2 separate regions of the Homo sapiens genome follow, and region 1 is linked to region 2. Evidence: fine-mapped expression QTL. A gene starts in region 2. The other region holds a variant in brackets. All regions are shown on one strand. Distances are from middle to middle.

The links. PIP is the estimated chance that this variant, and not a neighbour inherited with it, causes the effect.
Region 1: its variant is fine-mapped to the expression of TMEM102 in whole blood (INTERVAL, PIP 0.99).

What each region holds. Positions count from the first base shown.
Region 1 is chr17:7,469,210-7,477,531 of GRCh38, forward strand. The region is part of intron 1 of ZBTB4 (zinc finger and BTB domain containing 4); the gene reads right to left. Among named protein-coding and RNA genes, the nearest start is that of ZBTB4, 6.3 kb to the right of the region's middle. The variant C/CT (reference allele first, on the strand shown) is at 3,746.
Region 2 is chr17:7,431,585-7,439,906 of GRCh38, forward strand. It overlaps TMEM102 (transmembrane protein 102), which reads left to right and starts at 3,851. Exons shown (of 3, transcript NM_178518.3): 1 at 3,851-4,112; 2 at 4,269-4,501; 3 at 4,610-6,095. The coding sequence starts at 4,288. The coding sequence ends at 5,922. It overlaps SPEM3 (SPEM family member 3), which reads left to right. Exons shown (of 3, transcript NM_001364708.1): 3 at 1-1,236. The coding sequence ends at 1,178. FGF11 (fibroblast growth factor 11) reads left to right here and starts at 7,928. Exons shown (of 5, transcript NM_004112.4): 1 at 7,928-8,229. The coding sequence starts at 8,037. RefSeq lists enhancers at 3,535-3,704, 4,756-5,665, 6,462-6,561, 6,576-7,484, 7,738-8,271 and silencers at 5,401-5,680, 6,652-6,751, 8,030-8,129.

The DNA.
Region 1 (8,322 bases), 38 kb after region 2:
AGACTGGAATGCAGTGGTGCAATCTCAGCTCACTGCAACCCCCGCCTCCTAGGTTCAAGCGATTCTCCAGCCTCAGCTTCTTGAGTAGCTGGGATTACAGGCGTCCGCCGCCATGCCTGGCTAATTTTTTGTATTTTTAGTAGAGACAGGGTTTCACCGTGTTAGCCAGGGTAATCTTGATCTCCTGACCTTGTGACCTGCCTACCTAGGCCTCCCAAAGTGCTGGGATTATGGGCGTGAGCCTCCATGCCTGGCCACTTTCCCTCTTTAAGGCCGGGCACGGTGGCTCATGCCCGTAATCCCAGCACTTTGGGAGGCCAAGGCGGGCGGATCATCTGAGGTCAGGAGTTCTAGACCAGCCTGGCCAATGTGGCGATCTCTACTAAAAATAATAATAAAAAAAAAATTAGCCAGGCATGGTGGTGGGTGTCTGTAATCCCAGATACTTGGGAGGCTGAGGTAGGAGAATTGCTGGAACCCAGGAAGTAGAGGCTGCAGTGAGCCGAGATCGCGCTGGATGGAGATCAATCCAGGCTGGGTGACAGAGTGAGACTCTGTCTCAAAAAATAAAAATAAAAATAAATAAAAAATAGGCCGGGCACGGTGGCTCACACCTGTAATCCTAGCAGTTTGGGAGGCAGAGGCGGGTGGATCGCGAGGTCAAGAGATTGAGACCATCCTGAAAAACATGGTGAAACCCTCTCTCTACTGAAAATACAAAAATTAGCCGGACGTGGTGGCAGGCACCTGTAGTCCCAGCTACTCGGTAGGCTGGGGCAGGAGAATCACTTGAATCCGGGAGGCGGAGGTTGCAGTGAGCCGAGATTGCGTCACTGCACTCCAGCCTGGTGACAGAACGAGACTCTGTCTCAAAAAATAAATAAATAAATAAAATGACAGACCATGGGCTGGGTGCAGTGGCTCACACTTGTAATCCCAGCACTTTGGAAGGCTGAGGCAGGTGGATCCCTTGAGCTCAGGAGTTCGAGACCAGCCTGGGCAAGATGGAGAAACCTGGTCTCTACAAAAAATACAAAAATTAGCCAGGTGTGGTGGTGTGCACCTATAGTTCCAGCTACTCAGGAGGCTGAGGTGGGAGCATCCCTTAAGCCCAGGAGTTCAAGGCTGCAGTGAGTTATGATTATGCCACTGTACTCCAGCCTGAGTGACAGAACAAGACCCTGCCTCAAAAAAATAAAATAGGCTGGGCATGGTGGCTCATGCCTGTAATCCCAGCACTTTGGGAGGCCGAGGTGGATGGATCACCTGAAGTTCAGGAGCTCGAGACCAGCCTGGCCAACATGGTGAAACACCGTCTCTACTTAAAATATAAAAAATTAGCAGGGCATGGAGGTGGGCACCTATAATCCCAGCTACTCAGGAGGCTGAGGCAGGAGAATCACTTGAACCCAGGAGGCAAAGGTTGCAGTGAGCCGAGATTGCACCATTGCACTCCAGCTTGGGCAACAAGAATGAAACTTCGTCTCAAAATAAATAAATAAAATGTCAGATTATGGCTTATCAATGCTAGGTAGCTGGCCCAAGGACGTATGACCAGCTAGTAGCAGGGCTGGGATCTGATCCCAGGAAGTTTGGCTCCAAAGCCTGTGTTCCTGATGACTTCACCATATATTAACGAAGGACGTGTTTATGGCACCCACTAGGGCACAAATATCCTACCTGGGTGCCTTTCTGAAAATTAGAAGCAAGGTTCTTTCCTCCAGGAGGTAGCAGCCCTGTGTAGGTGGGCAAAGTCAAGCTTTGCCTCCAGTCCCCATTCACCCCACTGGCTGGGCCTGCCAACCTGCACAACCATATGTGGTGGGCTATGCATGTGTGACCGTGTGCTGACTACCACAGTACTTGGACGAGACCTGTCAGGGCTTCTTAGAACTAGAGACACCCAATGCTGGACTGGCCCTTAAGATCACACACAATCATTGTCATCATGGTCTCTGTAGCTGCCATTTATGAAAAAAATTTTTTTTTTTTGAGACAGGGTCTCATTCTGTTGCCCAAGCTGGAGTGCAGTGGTGTGAACATTGCTCACTGCAGCCTGGACCTCCTGGAATCAAATGATCCTCCTGCCTCAGCCTCCGGAGTATCTGGGACCATAGGCTTATGTCACAATGCCTGGCTAATTTATTTATTTACTTTTGTAGAGATGGGGTCTTGCCACGTTGCCCAGGCTTGAAATACTTATGATGTGCAAAGTATAATGCTAAGCATTTTATCTGTATCATCTCATTTCAACACTCAAAATGGCCAGTGAGACAACAGGCTTAGAGAAATCAAATACTCTAAACTCCTCCCTTTCAGGTAGAAGGTAGGTAGTGATGGGGTTATTTGCCTCTGGTTTTGTTGCTAGCCAACCCAGCGTTTGGACGCAGCTTGAGTTAAACTGCCCTATCCTGGCTACTGCCCTGCAAGGCCTTATAGGAAGTGGAAAAGACTAGCTATGTGACCCCAGGCAGGTTACTTAACCTCTCTGTATCTGTTTCTTTGTCCATACGGTGGGGACAATTAATAGTTCCTACCTTGTGGGGTTGTTGTAAAGATTAAATGAGCTAACAACTGGCAATATTTAGTTTGTAGAACTCAGTCCTGGAAAATGGTGGGGAGAAGTAGTGAAGAAAAAAAGGCACAAATTGGGCTTCCTGGTAGGTTTGGTGGCTCTGTGGTTTTAGAGTTTTTTATTTGTTTGTTCTTACCATTTCTCTACTCTTCAGTGCCTGTGTGACCTCAGATGTGCCACTGAGGTGGGGATCTGAGCATGGACACCAGAGACGCCCTACATCTTGCGGTTCCCTCTGGCTGGAATGTTCTTTCCTCCAGATAGCCTCATGCAGTGAACCCCAACTTCCTTTAAGCCTTGACTTAGAAGCCACCTTCCCCTGAGGCCTTCCCTGGCCACTCCCCACCTTCTAAAACTTCCTATCTCCCGACCCTACTTTATTTTGCTCCTTGGCACTTAGTAACACTTTTTCTTTTTTTTTTTTGAGACACAGTCCAGCTCTGTCGCCCAGGCTGGAGTGCAGTGGTGCGATCTGGGCTCACTGCAACCTCCGCCTCCTGGGTTCAAGCGATTCTCCTGCCTCTGCCTCCCGAGTAGCTGGGATTACAGGCGCCTGCCACCACGTCCGGCTAATTTTTGTATTTTTAGTAGAGACGAGGTTTCACCATCTTGGCCAGGCTGTTCTTGAAATCCCAACCTCGTGATCCACCTGCCTTGGCCTCCCAAAGGGCTGGGATTACAGGCATGAGCCACCGCGCCCAGCCTGGCTAATTTTTTTGTATTTTTAGTAGAGGTGGGGTTTCACCATGCTGGCAAGGCTGGTTTTGAACTCCTGACCTTAAGTGATCTGCCCGCCTCTGCCTCTCCAAGTGCCAGGATTATAGGAGTGAGCCACTGCACCTGGCCATTCTTTTTTTTTTTTTTTTTTTTTTTTTGAGATGAGGTCTCACTCCGTTGCCCAGGTTGGAGTGCAGTGGCACAATCATGGTTCATTGCAGCCTCAACCTCCCAGGCTCTCATGACCTCCCACCTCAGCGTCCCTAGTAGCTGGCACCACAGGTGCACACCACAATGCCCAGTTAATTTATTTTTTATTTTTAGTAGAGATTGGATCTCTCTATGTTGGCCAGGCTGGTCTCGAACTCCTGGGCTCAAGTGATCCTTCTGCCTCGGCCTCCCAAAGTGCTGGGATGACATGCATGAGCCACTGAAACTGGCCCAACTGCTTCT[C/CT]TTTTTTTTTTGCGGCGGGGGACAGAGTCTAGCTCTGTCGCCCAGGCTGGAGTGCAGTGGCACAATCTTGGCTCACTGCAACCTCCGCCTCCCGGGTTCAAGAGATTCTCCTGCCTCAACCTCACGAGTCACTGGGACTATAGGCGCGCGCCACCATTTTTTTTTTTTTTTTTTTTGAGACTGAGTCTCGCTCTGTCGCCCAGGCTGGAGTGCAGTGGTGCGATCTTGGCTCACTGCAAGCTCCGCCTCCCGGGTTCACGCCATTCTCCTGCCTCAGCCTCCGGAGTAGCTGGGACTACAGGCACCCACCACCACTCCCGGCTAATTTTTTTTTGTATTTTTAGTAGAGACGGGGTTTCACCATGTTAGCCAGGATGGTCTCCATCTCCTGACCTTGTGATCTGCCCACTTCGGCATCCCAAAGTGCAGGGATTACAGGCATGAGCCACCGCGCCTGGCCAGGCCCGGATAATTTTTGTATTTTTAGTAGAGATGGGGTTTCACCATGTCGGCCTGGCTGGTCTTAAACTCCTGACCTCAGGTGATCTGCCCGCCTCAGCCTCCCAAAGTGCTGGGATTACAGAGCCTGGTCAATTATTTATCTTTTTTTGAGACAGGATCTTGCTCTGTTGCCCAGGCTGCAGTACAATGGTGAGATTGAGGCTCACTGCAGCCTTAACCTCCTGGGCTCAAATGATCCTCTCACCTGTCAGCCTTCTGAGTAGCTGGGACTACAGGTACCTGCCACCATGCCCAGATAATTTTTGTATTTTTTGTAGAGATGAGGTTTCACCATGTTCCCCAGGGCTGGTATTGAAATCCTGGTCTCAAGCAATCCGCCCAGCTCAGCATCCCAAAGTGCTGGGATCATAGTGGAAAGCCACTGCGCCCAGCTCCTATTTCTTATTTATCTCTGGAATGTAAGCTCCAAGGGGTAAAAGGTAGGAATGTTTTTGGTTTTGTTTTGTTTTTGAGATGGATGGCATCTTGCTCTGTTGCCCAGGCTGGAGTGCAGTGGCATGATCTCTCTCGGCTCACTGCAACCTCTGCCTCCTGGGTTCAAGCAATTTTCCTGCCTCAGCCTCCCAAAAACCTGGAACTACAGGCATATGCCACCACACCCGGCTAATTTTTATATTTTTAGTAGAGACAGGGTTTCACCATGTTGACCAGGCTGGTCTCGAACTCCTGACCTCAGGTGATCCACCCGCCTTGGCCTCCCTCCCAAAGCGCTGGAATTACAGGCATGAGCCACCATGGCCAGACTTTTTTTTTTTTTGACATGAGGTCTTGCTTTGTCACCCAGGCTGTAGTGCAGTGGTGTTACCACAGCTCCCTGCAGCCTTGACCTCCCCTAGGCTCAGGTGATTCTCTCATTACAGCCTCCCAAGTAGCTGGGACTACGGGCATATGCCACCACGCCCAGCGAATTTTTTGTATTTTTAGTAGAGATAGGGCTTCACCATGTTGCCCAGGTTGGTCTCGAACTCCTGGGATCAAGCAATTCACCGCCTTGGACACCCAAAGTGTTGGAATTACAGGTGTGAGCCACAGCGCCCGGCCAAGGGTAGGGAATTTTGTCTGCTTTGTTCATTGCCGTATCTGAAGTCGTTAGAATAGGGCCTAGCACGTAATAGGTGGTAAAAACAAAACAAAAAAACTGGTAAATGAATGAACCTGTCCTCAAAGTCCATCCTCCAGGATGGAAGCCATCGTCCACGCTGGACTGAGTTGGCCTGGAGATAGGGATGACAATTATAACTTGACCACTTCTGGGCCAGGCACAGTGGCGCACACCTGTAATCCCAGCACTTTGGGAGGCTGAGGCGGGCAGATCACTTGAGGTCAGGAGTTCCAGACCAGCCTGGCCAACATGATGAAACCCCATCTGTACTAAAAATACAAAAATTAGCTGGGTGTGGTGGTGCACGCTTGTAACCCCAGCTACTCAGGTGGCTGAGGCAGGAGAATTGCTTGAACCGGGGAGGTGGCGGTTGCAGCGAGCAGAGATTGCGCCACTGCATTCCAGCCTGGGCGACAGAGTGAGACTCTGCCTCAAAAAAAAAAAAAAAAAAAAAAAAGGCCAGGTATGGCCAACTCACGCCTGTAATCCCAGCACTTTGGGAGGCCAAGGCAGGTGGATCACCTGAGGTCAGGGATTGACCACCTGCCTAGCCAACATGGTGAGACCAGCCTGGCCAACATGGTGAAACTTGGTCTCTACTGAAAATAAAAAATTAGCTGGGCGTAGTGGCGGGCGCCTGTAACCCCAGCTACCCGGGAGGCTGAGGCAGGAGAATCACCTGAACCCGGAAGGCGGAGGTTGCAGTGAGCCAAGATCATGCCATTGCATTCCAGCCTGGGTAACAAGAGAGAAATTCCGTCTCAAAAAAAAATTAAAAGAAACCATAAATAAGTTGACCACTCTGGAGTCCTCACAATTTGCCTCATACTCTTCTTGGGGCCTCACACACATTACCTCATTTAATGATATTCTCAGTACAGCCACCCACAATAGGTTTTATATTATCCTGTTGCCCAGGCTGGAGCGCAGTGGCGTGATCTCGGCTCACTGCAACCTCCGTCTCCTGGGTTCAAGCAATTCTCCTGCCTCAGCCTCCAGAGTAGCTGGGATTCCACGCCCAGCTAGTTTTTTTATTTTTAGTAGAGACAGGGTTTCTCCATGTTGGCCAGGCTGGTCTTGAACTCCTGACCTCAGGTGATCCACCTGCCTTGGCTTCCCAAAGTTCTGGGATTACAGGCATGGGCCACTGCGCCCGGCCATATTATTCTAATTTTACAGAAGAGGAAACCGAGGCTCAGAGAGGGATATACCTTACTCGAGGTCGCACAGCTTGTAAGCAGCAGTCAAGATTCGAATCCAGGCCCAGCTGACCCCAGATGCTCAATCTTTCCCTCTGCCATACTGCTAGACCTGGCCCTGAAGAGGCCTATGGCCCGCCAGCTGGTTACATAAACCACCGCACAAGGTCTCACGTGCTAAGTGCTAAATGTGTCATGTCTGACTCCACCCTTTCCCTCACTTCCACATCCAGCAGTCATCAAGTGTGGCTGAAATCGCCGCCGAGCTTGGGAATGGCTCTGGAAATCTTCCCTTCGATAGCTCAGGTCCTTGTTAACACTCACGTGGTCCAAGGTTATGGCCTCCCAGCTATCCCCTGGCCTCCAGGCTTACCTTCCTCCATCCAGCCCTCCTCCCCCTGAGGGTCAACGTCCCTAACCACAGTTCAGGACTATCACTCCTGGGCTCAAAACCTCCACTGGTCCCCACTGACTCTAGAAGAAAGTTCAAATTCTTCTACCAGGCAGTCAAGGGCTCTGGTCTAGCTCCAATCTTCCTTTTTAATCTTGCCTTGTGTTATCCTCTTCAAACACACAGTACTCAGCGTGAGCCAGGCGTGATGGCAGATACCCATAGTCCCAGCTACTCAGGAGGCTGCAGCTAGAGGATTGCTTGAGCCCAGGAGTTTGAGTCCAGCCTGGGCAATATATTGAGACCCAGTTTCTAAACAAATGAACAAAACCCCAGACACCCAGTGTGCTCTCCAGCTTCTACATGACCCACACCTTCATGCCTTTGCCTGTGCTGGCTTGTTCTGCCAGAAATGCTCTTTCCCCAAGCTTGTCAAAATCCCTCCAAAACGTTAAGATCTGACTCCAAGGCCACCTCCTTCTTGGCCCTCCCTGATCCACAGGATGAGAACGATCATTCCTTCCTCTGACTCATCAACCTTTTGTGCTCCTATGGCCAGCATCCACCTTACACAGCAGCAGAGACTCAGGTTCTCATGCCCTCAGCTGGGGATCCCTGAGCATCCGGGTCTTCTGAAATGGACTGCTGCAAATGCTAAGTTCTGCAGCAACTGGGGAGAAGAGTGTTGGAGGGAGTTGCACAGAAAGGACCATCCACTGAATGTTCCAGAAGGCAGCAGAGTACAGTAGTTAAGAGCACAAGATCTTCAACCTGATTGCCCGGGTTCAAATACAGCTTCACCTCTTACTAGCTAAGTGACTTGGGGCAGATTACTTAACTTCTCTGGACCTCAGCTGCCTCACTTGAAAAAGGGAGGTAGAGTGCCTACTTCAGGGTGTTGTTCTGAGGACAGAGTGGCCACATATAAGTGCCCTGAGGACAGGCTGGTGCACGGTCAGTGCTAAGCAAGTGTGTGCTGCCATTATTATCAGCGAAGCCCCAAGAAGGGAATTCCCAGTCCTGGGGGAGGGCTGACAGGGGCTGGCATAGGCACAGCCCCCAGACTATAGCCACTTTCCGGGTCCGTTTCCCATGTGCTTTTGGAAGATACGCAGGGCAGACAATCAGCCCCATTCTGCAGATGAGGAACTGAGCTTCCTTCAGATCAAGTGCCAGTGAGGGAATGGTAAAGACGCCAGAGCTCCTCAGCCCTGGACCATGGCTCCTTTCTCTTCACCAGACCGTCACTGTGCACCTGTTGAGCAGGCTCCCACGGCAGCCACCCCTTCCCAGCCCCCCATGCCGGAGGGCCTGTCCGCAGCACCCTCCCTTCCCCCACGTACACACATCCTTCCAGTGGGGC
Region 2 (8,322 bases):
GAATCTATAGGAATCTTGAACCAAACCAAGAGACTGTGATCTACAAAAATCAAGATCTCTCCCAAGCAACTGACCACCAAAAGAACCTAGGCTCTTCTAAAGATTCTGGAGGTCACAAGAATACAGGCAATGTCCAAGATCCAGGAGTCTGTAGTACCGCAGGCCTTACTGAAGATTCTGGATCACAGAAGGGTCCGTATGTTCCCCAAGACTCTGAAGTCAATAAGAGCTCAGGAGTTATCCAGGAATCTTTTCTCCACAAGAGCCCAGGCCTTGTCCAAACCTCTGGCCTCCCAAAGTGCTCAGGCCTTACCCAAAACTCAGGAGACTACAAGAATCCAGGACTTATCCAAGATTGTGGTGGCCACAAAGTTAAAGGCCTTACTCAAGATTCCAACCTCCCAAGCCTTACCCAAGCCACTAAAGTTGAAAGAAGATTTAGCCTTCCCCAAGATGTTGGAGTTTACAGGAGCTCAGAACATAGCCAAGACTCTAATCTCCACAAGTGCCCAGGAATTAATCAAGATCCTGGCCCCCATAAAGACCCAGCCCTTGTCCAAGACTCTGGCCTCCCCAAGATTTCAGGCCTTACCCAGGAATCTGGCCCCTACAAGAGCTCATGCCTCATCCCAGATCCCAGCCTCTACAAGAACCCAAGCCCTGCCCTAGGTTCTGATTTTGTCCAGCTTTTGTCCCTGCTTCAGACCCCAAAGTCCACACTGTCCCTGATGAAGTCATCTGTGCCTGAGAAGGCTGCTCAGAAGGAGGACGCACAGCGGCACGTCCTCTGGGCTCGTGTCCAACTCAATGAGAACTCCTGCCCTTCCAAGGCCCAAGTGGTCTCCAATGACCTGCAGACCTTCTCAGAGGTACCTGTATTAATTGAGCTGCAGTCATCCTCCTGGCGGGCAGGCAGCCAGCACGGGGCGTACCGCCCTGTGGATACAGTTCCTTCAGGCTACCAGAACTATCGTCAGATGTCTATGCCTACCCATATCAACTGGAAGTCCCACTGCCCTGGACCAGGCACCCAGGCAGGGCATGTGGTTTTTGATGCCCGTCAGAGACGGTTGGCAGTGGGCAAGGACAAGTGTGAAGCTCTGTCTCCTAGGCGCCTTCATCAAGAGGCACCCAGCAACTCGGGGAAACCATCAAGGAGTGGGGATATCAGAATGTGATGAGAACCTTGGACAAAGAGGGGACAAAAGTGCATCAGGAATAAAGAGGCGAGAGAAATGTTCTGTGTTTGTTTGAGGACATCCACCCCAGCCCATCCCCGATACTGGCCACCCACAAAGCCACTGAGGACAGGTCCCTGTTTCTCCTCCATAGCTGCATAGCTAAGCCCATTATCCTCAAGGCCCTAGAGCTCCTCTGTCCCATACACTAGCCATTAGCCAAATGTGGCTATTAAAATGTATATTAGGCCTGGTGCAGTGGCTTACACCTGTAATCCCAGCACTTTGGGAGGCCGAGGTGGGCGGATCACCTGAGGTCAGGAGTTCGAGACCAGCCTGGCCAACATGGTGAAACCCCGTCTCTATAAAAATACAAAAATTAGCCGGGCATGGTGGTACACGCATGTAATCCCAGCTATTCGGGAGGCTGAGGCAGGGAGAATCACTTGAACCTGGGAGGCGGAAGTTGTGGTGAGCCGAGATCGCACCATTGCACTCCAGCCTCGGTGACACAGCAAGACTCTGTCTCAAAAAAAAAAAAAAAAAAAAAAGTAGATGTTACTGCGGAACACATTTTTAAATTTTGTTTAATTTTAATTTACATTTTCTTTTTTTCTTTTTCTTTTTTTCTTTTTTTTGAGACAGAGTCTCGCTCTGTCACCCAGGCTGGAGTGCAATGGCGCGATCTCGGCTCACTGCAACCTCTGCCTCCCAGGTTCAAGCAAGCGATTCTCCTGCCTCAGCCTCCTGAGTAGCTGGGATTACATGCGTGCACCACCACGCCCAGCTAATTTTTGTCTTTTTAGTAGAGATGGGGTTTCACCATGTTGGCCAGGCTAGTCTCGAACTCCTGACCTCAAGTGATCCACCCGCCTCGGCCTCCCAAAGTGTTGGGATTACAGGCGTGAGCCAGGGCGCCTGGCCACATTATCTACATTTCAAGTGCTCAACAGCCACAGGTGGCTGCTGGTGGCTACTGTATCAGACAGGACCAACTCAGGACATTGCTATCGTCACAGAAAATTATATTGGAGAGCCATGCTTTAGAGTTTAGAGGAACTATTCCTTGTCACCCATTCTTAACATCTTCAAAGCTTCCACAGAGTCCAGAGAACTTAGTTCTTTTTAGAGTGCCTCGGAAGCCACCCTCTGGGAAGGAGGTGAGATGCAGGGATGTCTGATGCCTGGTTACTCCAGACTGTGAGAAACAGCCCAGTCTCCAGTTCTCCTGATCTGGCCTCTTGGGTCACAGCCAGATGTGTGTGTACGGGAACCTACTTGCGCAGTTCTGGGCTGCTTTGGTGCTCTCGCTTCTCCCAGGGACCCCAGCTCTGGTTGCTGAAGGAGAAAACTCTCTGTCAGTGACGAGGAACCCCTGAGTCCTGGGCTTGCCAAATTGATCTCTACAGTTGGGGAGTCTCTTCTTTTACAGGCCTCTAATTTTCCTAGATGTCCTCCTTAATTATCTTATCCATGGACTTAGGCCTATCCCGTCCTGGAGACAGACCAAGGGCAGAAGGAATGTAAGAAGTCGTGGCCCAGGCCGGGTGCAGTGGCGCGTGCCTATAATCCCAACACTTTGGGAGGCCGAGGTGGGAGGATCACCTGAGGTCAGGAGTTCAAGACCAGCCTGGCCAACATGGTGAAACCCTGTCTCTACTAAAAATACAAAAAATTAGCCAGGTATGGTGGCAGGCGCCGTAATCCCAGCTTCTCGGGAGGCTGAGGCAGGAGAACTGCTTGAACCCGGGAGGTGGAGGTTGCAGTGAGCGGAGATTGCGCCACAGCACTCCAGTCTGGGCAACAGTGCGAGACTCAGTCTCAAAAACAAAACAAAACAAAACAAAAATTTGAGATCCCAAAGTGTTTTCCCTGCCACGACTCAGGTAGCAGTGAGCTGAGGTGGGCATCACTAACATGTATGTCTCTCCTATGAGTCAAACGTCCATTTCTGGGTCACCATCTGTGTGCTCCTGCCTAACACTACCACTTTTGGGATTCCAAGATGCACCCCCCCCACCCCACCCAGGCAGGGGTCCCTATCTCTCCCCAGGCCCTAGGGTGGAGTTTCGCTCTTATCACCCAGGCTGGAGTGCAATGGCACAATCTCAGCTCACTGCACCCTTTCCCTCCTAGGTTCAAGTGATTCTCCTGCCTCAGCCTCCTAAGTAGCTGGGATTACAGGCGTCTGCCACCACGCCCGGCTAATTTTTGTATTTTTAGTAGAGACAGGGTTTCGCAATGTTGGCCAGGCTGGCCTTGAACTCCTGACCTCAGGTGATTCACCCGCCTCAGTCTCCCAAAGTGCTGGGGTTACAGGCGGGAGCCACCGCGCCCGGCCCATCCCTCATTATTTTTTGCGACTCAGAGCCATCCTATTACCCCTCTCAAACCCCAAGGAATGTTTGAGTGGGGTTGATATGGGTGTGAAAAGACACAGAATAATCTGTCTCCAGAGGAACTACAACTTCCATCAGGCACTACTTCAGCGGAACAGGAAAGGATGTGGGGGCGTGGCTACCACGCCCTAGTAGAGCGGGAAACTACAACTCCCAGGATAACGCGGGATTTCAGCAGGGCCAAAAGAGTGATTGAGCTCTGACTGGCGACCCGACCCGGCGGAAACCACCTCGACAGCCTCCAGAAAGGGGCGTGGCTGAAAATGTAGGGGCGTGGCCACGTGGGCATCAGGAAGAAGTAACCTGTTGAATCTATTTCTGCTCCCCACCCTTACTGCTTCCCATAAGGGGGAAGCCGCAGACTAATAAGCCTCTTCCAAAAAAGAGGTAAAGGGAGGTAGACAAGGGGCGGCAGCGGAGGCTGGCTACTGCATTCCGTAGGAGGAGCCAACAGTTACTTTTTACCTGCTGAGTCCGGTGAACCAGTTCATGGGGGCGGGGACCTGCCTATGAGAAAAGGGCCAGGATAGAAGAGGTATTTATTTGTTCATTTTGAGGACTAAATTTAGAACCCATCATCTACAGACCCATTTGTAGGTTGTGTCTGGGGCACTCGCTCGGCCTCAGGAAGAGGGAAGAACGGGGACGACTTTGTGGCAGCAAAGCCACCTCCCTTCCGTGTTTTCCGCAGCCCAAAGCGATAGAACCGCATGGCTTCCGCAGTCTGGGGGAGTGCCCCCTGGTGGGGCCCGCCGCCCCCGGCCCCAGCTCGGCCGCTCACGGACATCGACTTCTGCTCCGGGGCGCAGCTGCAGGAATTGACCCAGCTGATCCAGGAGCTGGGTGTGCAGGAGAGCTGGAGTGACGGGCCCAAGCCGGGAGCCGATCTCCTCCGGGCCAAGGACTTTGTCTTCTCTTTGCTTGGTAAGTAACCCTACTTGCCTTTGGGAACTCACAGCTCTCAGCCTCACCACGCCCCCGCCCCCGCCCCGGCTTTGGGCGACGCCCTCACGATCCGTTCCCTTTTTTTAGGTCTAGTTCACCGCCGGGACCCTCGCTTTCCTCCCCAGGCAGAGCTCTTGCTGCTTCGTGGTGGGATTCGCGAGGGCTCCCTGGATCTGGGGCATGCACCCCTGGGTCCCTACGCCCGGGGACCTCACTACGATGCCGGCTTCACACTCCTAGTGCCCATGTTTTCACTGGACGGCACTGAACTGCAACTGGACCTGGAATCCTGTTACGCACAGGTCTGCCTCCCAGAGATGGTGTGCGGAACCCCCATCCGGGAGATGTGGCAGGATTGCTTAGGACCCCCAGTCCCAGGAGCACGTGATTCGATCCACCGAACGGAGAGCGAAGAAAGTTCCAAGGACTGGCAAAGCTCTGTAGACCAGCCGCACAGCTACGTCACTGAGCACGAGGCGCCGGTGTCTTTGGAAAAATCGCCTAGTGACGTTTCAGCGTCCGAGTCGCCTCAGCATGACGTCGTCGACCTTGGCTCTACCGCACCTTTGAAAACAATGAGTAGTGACGTCACCAAGGCAGCCGTCGAAAGCCCAGTCCCAAAGCCGTCGGAGGCTCGGGAAGCGTGGCCCACATTATGTTCCGCCCAGGTGGCTGCCTGGTTCTTTGCTACGCTGGCGGCGGTCGCCGAGTCTCTGATCCCTGTCCCGGGTGCTCCGCGTCTGGTGCACGCAGCTCGCCACGCGGGTTTCACCACCGTCCTCCTGGCTACCCCTGAGCCCCCTCGCCGCCTCCTGCTCTTCGACCTGATCCCAGTGGTGTCCGTGGCGGGCTGGCCCGAGGGGGCTCGGAGCCACTCGTGGGCCGGTCCGCTGGCCTCTGAGTCGGCTTCCTTCTACCTGGTGCCCGGTGGCGGCACCGAGCGGCCGTGCGCCTCCGCCTGGCAGCTCTGTTTTGCCCGCCAGGAGCTGGCGCTCAAAGCGCGCATACCAGCGCCGCTGCTGCAGGCGCACGCGGCGGCCCAGGCGCTACTGCGCCCGCTGGTGGCCGGGACCCGGGCGGCGGCGCCCTACCTCCTGCGGACGCTGCTGTACTGGGCGTGCGAGCGGCTGCCTGCGCTCTACCTGGCGCGGCCAGAAAATGCGGGCGCCTGCTGCCTCGGGCTGCTAGACGAGCTCGGCCGAGTGCTCGAGGCCGGGACGTTGCCTCACTATTTTCTGAACGGCCGACAGCTCCGTACGGGGGACGACTCCGCTGCGCTGCTCGGAGAATTGGCCCGGCTCCGCGGGGACCCGGCCCGGGCCCTCCGTGCCGCGGTGGAGGAGGCCAAAGTGGCCCGCAAGGGGGGCGGTTTGGCGGGCGTGGGGGGCGGGGCCCATTAAAGACGCTGTTCCTACCAGTGGAAAGTGCCTCTGTGGGCGAGCGGGACGTGGGGGGCCCTGCTCGCCCCTCGCCAGGGGGACTGACTGTGTGCCCTGGGCCTGAAGCCCCCCTTCTGGAAGACCTCCCTGTTGGTTCCTCCTCTACGCCCACCCGCCTGCCCCCGCACAAGTTGCCCCATTCCAGCCTCGCTATTCTCCACATCTGTGGCCAGCACTCCGCCCAGGGGCAGCTTCCAGAAACCGTCTGTCCCCAGTTCTTTTGGTCATTTCTCTTAAGGGCCAATAGAAATGGGAGAAACATATTTGCTGACCAAACGCGAAAAGGAGTTATGGAGACCAGGGTCTGATCAATTTGGCTCACACAACGGCAGAGATATGAAGGAGGCCGGATTTCGCCCAAGGCTGGATCTCACCACCCCCCATCCTCCATCTCTCCAGTTCTTCCCCCACTTTACTCGTGCGGTTCTTTCTTCACTAACATCCCGGCCAGTAGGGTCTCTCTCCCTTCTCCCAGCGTCCGCCATTCCATCTCCCTTAGGCCCAACCTCTCCTTCCTACCCAGGGGTGCGTTCAGGAGGCCTTCCTGTCCCTCCTCCTCTGAAGGCTGAGACGTGCGGCCTTGCCTCGGCTTTGCCTGCTTGTAAGACACAGTCCGCACTCTCTACCTCCAAGGAACCCCGGGGTTCCTCCTGCCCGGCTTCACCCTCCTATTTCCCAGCGTCTCCGCCCCCTGCCCCGCCCCCGGGCCGGCTCTCCGAGGAGGGGGAACTGCTGTCGCCGCCGCCGCCGCCGCCTCAGCTTCCCACAGCCGCTGCCGCTGCCGCCGCTCTGCCTGGTCCAGCCACCGGCCCAGTGCTCTGACTTCGCCGGACCGGGGAGCTCTGCAGAGACACCCTCACTCCTTCCCGAGGGTCCGGGACGCCTAGCCGGGCGTGGGGGGAAGCTCCGTTTGCGGGGGACAGGGAGGGAGGAGCCTGGAGCCGAAGCCAGCGCCACCCGTCGCCGGATCAACAGGACAGGACAGGTTGAGGGGCGTCGGGAAAAGGAAGAGGGGGTGCTATAGGCAATCCCGGGGAGGACGAGGAAGCCCTGTAGCAGGAAGCTGTGATCCGCTCTGACTTGTAGGGGGCCTGTTCACATCTGGGGACTGGTGACAACGTGGGTGCACTCCTCTCTTGGGGGGCTGGTTAGATTGGAGGGCGTGGGATCTAAACAGCACCAGCTGTCCCCAAGAAAATTTAAGGGGCAGCCAGGGGAGAAAAAAACAAAAACAAAAACAAACACGGATGCTCCTCATTTTGAGGTGGCGGAAGGCCCTCCAGTCAACTACCTGGTGTATCCACTAGGAAGGGTGGATTTGGAGGTGACTTCAAAAGGAGCGGAGGGTGTGAAGGTGAAGAAAGGGTCTTGGCCGCTAGAATTCTATGCTACTAGACATGGGGGGGACTTGGTGAAAAAGGTATTATCCAGCCAGAGGGTCTGGGAGCCCTGTCTTACTGAACCTGGGCAACCTGGATATTCTGAGACATATTTTGGGGGGATTTCAGTGAAAAAAGTGGGGGATCCCCTCCATTTAGAGTGTAGCAAAGGAAAAAACACCAAGGTTGGGTTCCTTCCTGACATTGGCAGTGCCCCAGTAGGGGTGGGATGAGCGAATATTCCCAAAGCTAAAGTCCCACACCCTGTAGATTACAAGAGTGGATTTGGCAGGAGTGTGCCCCAAAATACAGTGGAAAGGTGCCTGAAGATATTTAAACCACGTCTTGGAAATTTAGTGGGTCTTGGCTTTGGGATAGGTGAAGTGAGGACAGACACTGGAGAGGAGGGAAAGGGGACGTTTTCAATAGGAGGCAAAACTCGAGGGTGGGATCCACTGAGGAGTACATAGGCTGCTGGATCTGGTGGAGCCAGCACTGGGCCCACGGGTGGTAACTGGCTGCTGTGGAGGGGGGTACGTGAGGGGGGGGGTCTGGGGCTTATCCTCAGGTCCTGTGGGTGGGGCAGCGAGTCGGGGCCTGAGCGTCAAGAGCATGCCCTAGTGAGCGGGCTCCTCTGGGGGAGCCCAGCGCGCTCCGGGCGCCTGCCGGTTTGGGGGTGTCTCCTCCCGGGGCGCTATGGCGGCGCTGGCCAGTAGCCTGATCCGGCAGAAGCGGGAGGTCCGCGAGCCCGGGGGCAGCCGGCCGGTGTCGGCGCAGCGGCGCGTGTGTCCCCGCGGCACCAAGTCCCTTTGCCAGAAGCAGCTCCTCATCCTGCTGTCCAAGGTGCGACTGTGCGGGGGGCGGCCCGCGCGGCCGGACCGCGGCCCGGGTGAGTGCGGCTGGGGCGGGGTCTCCCGGCCAGAGGTTTCTCTGCCTGGGAGATTGAGGCCAGGGACTCTGAAGAATAGGGCCCGGCTGAGGG